2 linked regions of the Homo sapiens genome follow. The protein of the gene in region 1 interacts with the protein of each later gene in a pairwise test. Each region holds a gene or a part of one and is shown on either strand. Other genes may lie near its edges. The genes, in order: FERMT3 and EXOSC10.

Region 1 (3,810 bases):
AGGAGCCAAGACAAGGGGATGCGGCGGCACACAGCCAGAGTCCCACTGGGGTGCCCAGGAGGGAAGGGCCCAGCCTGGGAGGGGAAGTGCCGGAGGACGAGCGCTTCTCTTGGTTTGGCAGCAGTGGTGATGCCCGGCATGTGCAGCAGTGGGGTTGGGGGCTGGCTGAGGTGGGTGGGATGCAGTGGGAATCAGAAAACTCACCGGGAGGACCTGGGAGGAACTCAGGAAACAGGGCTTTGCAAACTCTCAAGGGCTGTGTGCCCAGAGCAGCTTTCCGGCAGCCTTTTTCCTATGCTCTCTCCCACCTGTTCATGCTCCTGGAGGGAGGAGGCGGGGAGACCTGTGCCTTCCATTACTGTAACTCCAGTTCCCAGCTGGCTGACAAGGGACAGACGCACATCTCTAATTCAATGCTCACTCATGGATCGTCATGTGCGTGCACAAGTTTGCTGCAAACCCTGCAGCTACCACATGGGAGGCCTTGTTCCGTGTCCCAGTTTGTAAGATCGTTATTGTATCTTACAGGGAAACTGAGGCCCAGTGAGGTTAAGTGGCTTGTCCAAGGTCACACAGCTAATAGCTAAAAATATTGAGTGCTCACTGCTCCAGGCCAGGCACAGGTCCAGGCCCTGAGGACATACAACGGTGAGACAGACGTAGTCTCTGCCTCCAGGAGCTCCCCAGAATGCAAGACAGAGGCTGTTAAACCGTGGATTATGGGAGGACAGAGGGGGCGTCATGTGGAGGGAGCCCAGTGGGCTGGAATGCAAGAGATGGGGCGCTAAGATTGGGGCACTCAGATGCTGGGTTGGAGAGCTCCCCTGGGAAGCGATATAGAAGCCAAGCCTAGAAGGCCAAATCAGGGGCTGCCTGCAGAGAGCCCTGCTGCTGTTACCATGGGGTAGACCCCAGGCCCGCCCAGGCTGCCCCACTCTTGGCTTAGGCAGGGCAGGGGAGTGGTCGCCCCAGGCTTCTGAATCCTGGGGTTGTGCTGGGTGTTGGGGGCACCAGGGAGGAAGGTTGGACCCAGATGTGCCCCCGTGCCCCACAGATCGCAAGCAGGACTGGTCAGACCATGCTATTTGGTGGGAACAGAAGAGGCAGTGGCTGCTGCAGACCCACTGGACACTGGACAAGTACGGGATCCTGGCCGACGCACGCCTCTTCTTTGGGCCCCAGCACCGGCCCGTCATCCTTCGGTTGCCCAACCGCCGCGCACTGCGCCTCCGTGCCAGCTTCTCCCAGCCCCTCTTCCAGGCTGTGGCTGCCATCTGCCGCCTCCTCAGTAAGTTGCCCGGCTGATTCCCCTGGCCCACGAGGGTGATGCAAAGAGGCAGGTTCCCCCGTTTCCAGGCCCAGCTCTGTTGACGCTGTCCTTGCTGTCTGGGTTGCCACCCTGCCTGCAGGGCTGTGACCCGCCCCAAGCACCCATGGGTGAGGTGGGGAGGCTGCAGCAGGACCTAGTCCCCGCTGAGACCCTAGCTCCCCTCAGGCATCCGGCACCCCGAGGAGCTGTCCCTGCTCCGGGCTCCTGAGAAGAAGGAGAAGAAGAAGAAAGAGAAGGAGCCAGAGGAAGAGCTCTATGACTTGAGCAAGGTTGTCTTGGCTGGGGGTGAGTGCAAGTGGGGGTGGGCCTGGGGGGTTGGGGGCAGGGGCCGGCCCGTGAGTCCCAGCCCTGGGGGACAGGCCTGGTTGACTCCCAACCTGCACTCCAGGCGTGGCACCTGCACTGTTCCGGGGGATGCCAGCTCACTTCTCGGACAGCGCCCAGACTGAGGCCTGCTACCACATGCTGAGCCGGCCCCAGCCGCCACCCGACCCCCTCCTGCTCCAGCGTCTGCCACGGCCCAGCTCCCTGTCAGACAAGACCCAGCTCCACAGCAGGTGCACCCAGGAGCCACGCCCCCTGTGTCAGGGCTCCCCCACCCAGGATCCACCCCCTGTCCCGTGTCTGTGCCCACCCCAGATCCACACTTCGTTTCCAGGCCTTTTCTCTGTGTGTGCTTGTCCCCCCAGCCCAGCCCCCCTCCCCACCCCACGGCCGTACCTGGCGCAGCCCTGACTGCTGCTTCTGCCGCGGCCCAGGTGGCTGGACTCGTCGCGGTGTCTCATGCAGCAGGGCATCAAGGCCGGGGACGCACTCTGGCTGCGCTTCAAGTACTACAGCTTCTTCGATTTGGATCCCAAGGTGGGTCGGGGCAGGGAGAAAGCGGGCCTCAGGTCCATGAGATGTGGAGACCTAGGGCCTGGGGTATGGGCTCTGGGATGTTAGTGACTTGTAGTGGCCTGTCCGTCTGCCCGTTTGTCCATCCACACCTTTGTTTACTGACCCCACAAACACCCACTGAAACTCATCTACTCACCTCAGCATCAGGCCAGGTCCTGGGCCCCGGGCAGATGCTGAAGCGGATGAAGACCAGTAAGTCTCAGTGCCTGTTTCCCAGGGAGCTGTCAGGGAGGAAGCTAAGACCCACAGATCCTCATAGACAGTGTGTGTGTGGGTGCCCCTGAGAAGTCTGGGGCTCAGGTGGGAGAGGCCCAAGCCTGGGAGCTCTGGGAAGGCTTCCTGGAGGGGGCACCATTAGGGACTGCAGGACCTGGGGGTGGGTGAGGAAGGAAGCTTTGCAGGGTGGCCCCTCTGTGCCCTGTTCACTCTTCCTCCCTTCCTCCATTGGCAACCAACATGCTCCAGGCAAAATGCTCCATGCAATGTGCTTCGCGCACATCTCAAAAACTTCCCAGAAGTCCACAGGTTGCTCTTTCTACCTGTAGGCCCCACCTCTCTGCCCCCTTTCTCTGCAAAACATCGTAGTTGTCTGAACGCTTGCTCCGCAGAATCCCACTTCTTGCTTCCAAGCTTTCTCTGGGTGCTGTTCGACTCCCTCTCACTCCTTGGCCATGGCTATTCTATATATTTTGACACCATCCACACGTGAGAAGTGCACCTGCTGAGGTGGCCACGTCTCCAGGCTATCTGTTCCCTGGCCATGTCCCACCCGCTTCTTACTTGACCACTTACTTGCAGCATAGACACCACCCCGACCACTCCTCCAGAATATCTTCCTCCTGAAGCCTCCTGTACACTTGCTTGGGGGGTGGCCTCTCCCCAAGCCACTCTGCCAGGCTCTGTGATGTTCCCTCCTCCTCTCCATGGCCTCTCGGTGTTGGTGAGCCCCAGGCTCTGCCCCAGGCTCTGCTCTGGGCCTCTGCTCTCTCCTCTCCTTCTCTCAGTCATCTCCAGTCTTGTGGATTTCAATACCATCTCCACACTCTCTCCCAGCTGATCATCTCCAGCTCAGATGTCTCTCTCCTAAGCTTTATTTATTTATATATTTATTTATTTTTATTTTTTGAGACACAGTCTTGCTCTGTTGTCCAGACTGGAGGGCAGTAGTGTTATCCCGGCTAACTGCAGCCTGGACCTCCCAGGGTCATGTGATCCTTAAGCCTCAGCTCCCCAAGTAGCTGGGACGATAGGCGTGTACTATACCTGGCTAATTTTTTTTTTTTTTTTGACATGGAGTCTTGCTCTGTTGCCCAAGCTAGAGTGCAGTGGTGCAATCTCGGCTCACTGCAACCTCTTCCTCCTGGGTTCAAGCAATTCTCCTGGGATTACAGGTGTGGGCCTGGCTAATTTTTGTATTTTTTTAGTAGAGATGGAGTTTCACCATATTGGTCAGGCTGGTCTCGAACTCCTGACCTCAGGTGATCCACCTGCCTCAGCCTCCCAAAGTGCTGGGGTTATAGGAGTGTATTTTTTTAGTAGAGATGGAGTTTCACCATATTGGTCAGGCTGGTCTCGAACTC
Region 2 (3,810 bases), on another chromosome or scaffold:
ATGAAAAATAAATTTCATGCTGGCTTTATTGCTAAAATCCCTATTAAGGACAAAGTGCTACTGTCCTCCAGGCACTGGGCCATCCATCATCTCATTCAATCCCTCTGTAACCCTGGGAAAAAGGTACTGTCATCACCCTCTCTTTAGAGATGAGCAAACAGACTCCGGGAGAGTAAATAACTTGTCCAAGGGACATGGTCAGTAAATGACAGAAGCAGACTCAAGGCTGGGCTTCCGCAAGTCTGCTGTGTTTCTTTATGACACCCCACGGACCTATGGCGTTACAACACATGGAGGTGACACTGGGCATAACACACAGGACGTGCAGTTGTTCAGTGTGACATAACCCGTGGGGGGAAAAGAGGAGAGAAGGCAGAAGCCCCACCTGATTCCCCATTTCCAAAAATAGCAAGCTAACTCAGGGACAGGAACGGGGCTGGGGGACCTCTCGGTTTTGCCTAACAAAAGAGCTCTGCTGCCACACAGAGGAAGCCAGTCGCCCATGTCATCAGAGCAGACGCTTCCTAAAGGGAGGAAGGAGGCTGCGAACAACAGTTCACGTTCTGGCTCTGGGGAACATCTCAAGAGGGTCTAGGGGAGGTGTGCTCTCATTCTTACTCATAATGCTGGTAAAAACAAGCCAGATAAGTAAGATAGAGTGTTTTAAAATTAAAGCTGTCACCTTTAAGAGCCTTAAAGTAACAGACATCTATAAAAATGCATCAAGCTGTATATTTAATATTTGTGTACTTTACTACATATAGATTAAACCTCAATTTAAAAACCGCAAATGAAGATTTGTTTCTTACAAAGTTTCCAAGTGCTTTTCTTTTTCTTTTTTGGCTAGAGTTCGCTCTGTCGCGCAGGTTGGAGCGCAGTGGCGCAACCTCGGCTCACTGCAAGCTCCGCCCCCCAGGTTCAAGCGATTCTCCTGCCTCAGCCCCCCGAGTAGCTGGGACTACAGGCGCCTGCCACGACGCCTGGCTAATTTTTTGTATTTTTAGTAGAGACGGGGTTTCACCATGTTAGCCAGGATGGTTTCGATCTCCTGACCTCATGATCCGCCCGCCTCGGCCTCTCAAAGTGCTGGGATTACAGGCGTGAGCCACCATGCCCAGCCCAAGTGCTTTTAAGAATCTCACTGAAGTTCTGGACCCTTTCCCTAGAAACAATGCTAGAAAATAAAGGGCTTTTGCATTCATTTTCACGGGATTCACAGATGAGATAGGCTTGTCTAAAACAGAAACCTGGTATGAATAATTAAGAAATCCCCTTTTCTTAGAAAGTCTCTTTTAGGGCCAGGCGCAGTAGCTCACGTCTGTAGTCCCAGCACTTTGGGAGGCCAAGGCGGGTGGATCACCTGAGGTCAGGAGTTCGAGACCAGCCTGGTCAACATGGTGAAACCCCATCTCTACAAAAATTAGCCGGGCATGACAGCAGGTGCCTGTAATCCCAGCTACTTGGGAGGCTGAGGCAGAACTGCTTGAACCTGGGAGGTGGAGGTTGCAGTGAGTCAAGATTGTGCCTCTGCACTCCAGCCTGGGTGACAAAGCGAGACTCCATCTCAAAAAAAAAAAAAAAAAAAAAAAGTCTCTTTTAGAACAGGTGACAAGTCCACTTACTTCATAGATTTTGGTTGATGGATCGAACTTCGCTGCCTGAGAGACGGGAGCACGGTGTCCCAGTGAGGGCAGAAACTGGAGGAAGGAAATGGCTGTGTGAAACGCTGCCGGGAACGGAATCTAGAGCCACGGGGCAGAAGCGCTCAGATGGGGGGTTGCTGGTGCCTTGTCAGCGTCTTTGCCAGGACACCAGGGCAGCCGACACACTGGCTTCAGAGGCTTCCTTCCCAGGTAAAAGCATGTACAGCTGTAGGCATCTCTGCATATCCTGTCAGCCCTGACAAAACTACTACTCACCATCCTAAATGGATTTTCAAAGGACTCCATGATGTTCTGGGCTTTTTTCTGTGCAACTGTCAATGGACCCTTTTTACTGTCTTCAGCACTAGGTTCCTGCAGGGACAGACAAAAAACGATCACTAATGACCATGATCATCTGTGACATCAAGATGCAAGCAAGAGAGCAACAGTTAACAGTGATTTTTTTTTTTTTTCTGGAGACAGAGTCTCGCTCTTTTGCCCAGGCTGGAGTACAGTGGTGTGATCTCTGCTCACTGCAACCTCCACCTCCTGTGTTCAAGCGATTCTCCTGCCTCAGCCTCCTGAGTAGCTGGGATTACAGGCACGTGCCACCATGCCCAGCTAATTTTTGTATTTTTAGCAGAGACCAGGTTTCACCATATTGGCCAGGCTGGTCTTGAACTCCTGACCTCAAGTGGTCCACCCGCCTTGGCTTCCCAAAGTGCTGGGATTACAGGTGTGAGCCACCGCACGCACCCGGCCAGTAACAGTGATATTAATACCAATGGCTAAGGCTAATTTTTCATACACTCTCTTATGTATAAGGTGTTGTGTCTGCAACAGCACACAGTAGCATTTCAATATCAATGTGCTGGATCAGTGAATTCTCAGCATGTCCTCATAGCCTATGAGGTGGTATTACTCTCACCATCTTACAGAGGAGGAAACTGAGGCCTACAGAGGTTGTGACAGTCTTTCAGAGGCTTGCAGTGAATACAAGCAGACCAAGGATCTAAACCCACCATGGTCTGGCTCTAGAACATGAGGTCTTAATTGATGCCTGAAATTTATTTTATGTATGTATGTATTATTTTTTTGAGTGGAGTCTTGCTCTGTTGCCCAGGTTGGAGTGCAGTGGTGCCATCTCTGCTCACTGCAACCTCCGCCTCCTGGATTCAAGTGATTCTCCTGCCTCAGCCTCACGAGTAGCTGGGATTACAAGCGTGCGCCACAATGCCCGGCTAATTAAAGACAGGGTTTCACCATGTTGGCCAGGCTGGTCTCAAACTCCTGACCTCAGGTGATATGCCCGCCTTGCCCTCCAAAAGTGCTGGGATTACAGGTGTGAGCCACCACGCCAGGCCTGAAATTTAGTATTACATATCTTTATAGGGAATCATTGAAATTATGCAACAAAATGCTGCTTCCAACTGGGTTCATAAATATGTGCTATCCTTTTGCTTCATCTGTAATTATGCGCCCTTGCAACACAAGAGTGCAGGGAGACCACAGCCTCCTTTACACCAAACAGCACTTCCGTATCAAAGCAGCCCAGAGCTCATGCTAACACGCTTAGCTGCTAAATCATCTTCATGACTCAAATTAGCTCTGAGGTCAGCTAAAGCGCCTAGTATTTTCTCATTAATTGCTAAAGCAAGGCCCAATCTAGATTTATGTAATTAAGTTAAAAACCAAAGTGAAGCCTGGGCGACATGGTGAAACCCCACCTCTACAAAACATACAAAAATTGGCTGGGCATGGTGGCATACACCTGTAGTCCCAGCTACTCGAGAGAAGGCTGGGGCAGAGGGATTGCTTGAGCCCAGGAGGCAGAGGTTGCAGTGAGCCAGGATGGTGCCACTGCACTCCCACCTGGGTGACAGGATGAGATCCTGTCACAAAAAAAAAAAAAAAAAAAAAAAAAAAAAATGCCGGGTGTGGTGGCTCATGCCTGTAATCCCAGCACTTTGGGAGGCTTAGGTGGGTGGATCGCCTGAGGTCAGGCATTCGAGACCAGCCTGGCCAACATAGTGGCCCCATCTCTATTAAAAATATAAAATATTAGCTAAGTATGGTGGCGGGCGCCTGCAATCCCAGCTACTAGGGAAGCTGAGGCAGGAGAATCGCTTGAACCTGGGAGGTGGAGGTTGCAGTGAGCCGAGATGAT

Evidence for each region.
Region 2: the proteins of FERMT3 (region 1) and EXOSC10 interact in a two-hybrid assay, tested with the Homo sapiens proteins (one large-scale study listed by BioGRID and IntAct).

Annotation. Positions count from the first base shown.
Region 1 is NC_000011.10:64,209,557-64,213,366, forward strand, and holds part of FERMT3 (fermitin family homolog 3 short isoform), read left to right. Parts: intron 1-1,054; coding exon 1,055-1,288; intron 1,289-1,495; coding exon 1,496-1,615; intron 1,616-1,718; coding exon 1,719-1,887; intron 1,888-2,088; coding exon 2,089-2,191; intron 2,192-3,810. UniProt on the Homo sapiens protein: Plays a central role in cell adhesion in hematopoietic cells. Acts by activating the integrin beta-1-3 (ITGB1, ITGB2 and ITGB3). Required for integrin-mediated platelet adhesion and leukocyte adhesion to endothelial cells.
Region 2 is NC_000001.11:11,072,312-11,076,121, forward strand, and holds part of EXOSC10 (exosome complex component 10), read right to left. Parts: intron 2,016-3,810; coding exon 1,920-2,015; intron 1,698-1,919; coding exon 1,623-1,697; intron 1-1,622. UniProt on the Homo sapiens protein: Catalytic component of the RNA exosome complex which has 3'->5' exoribonuclease activity and participates in a multitude of cellular RNA processing and degradation events.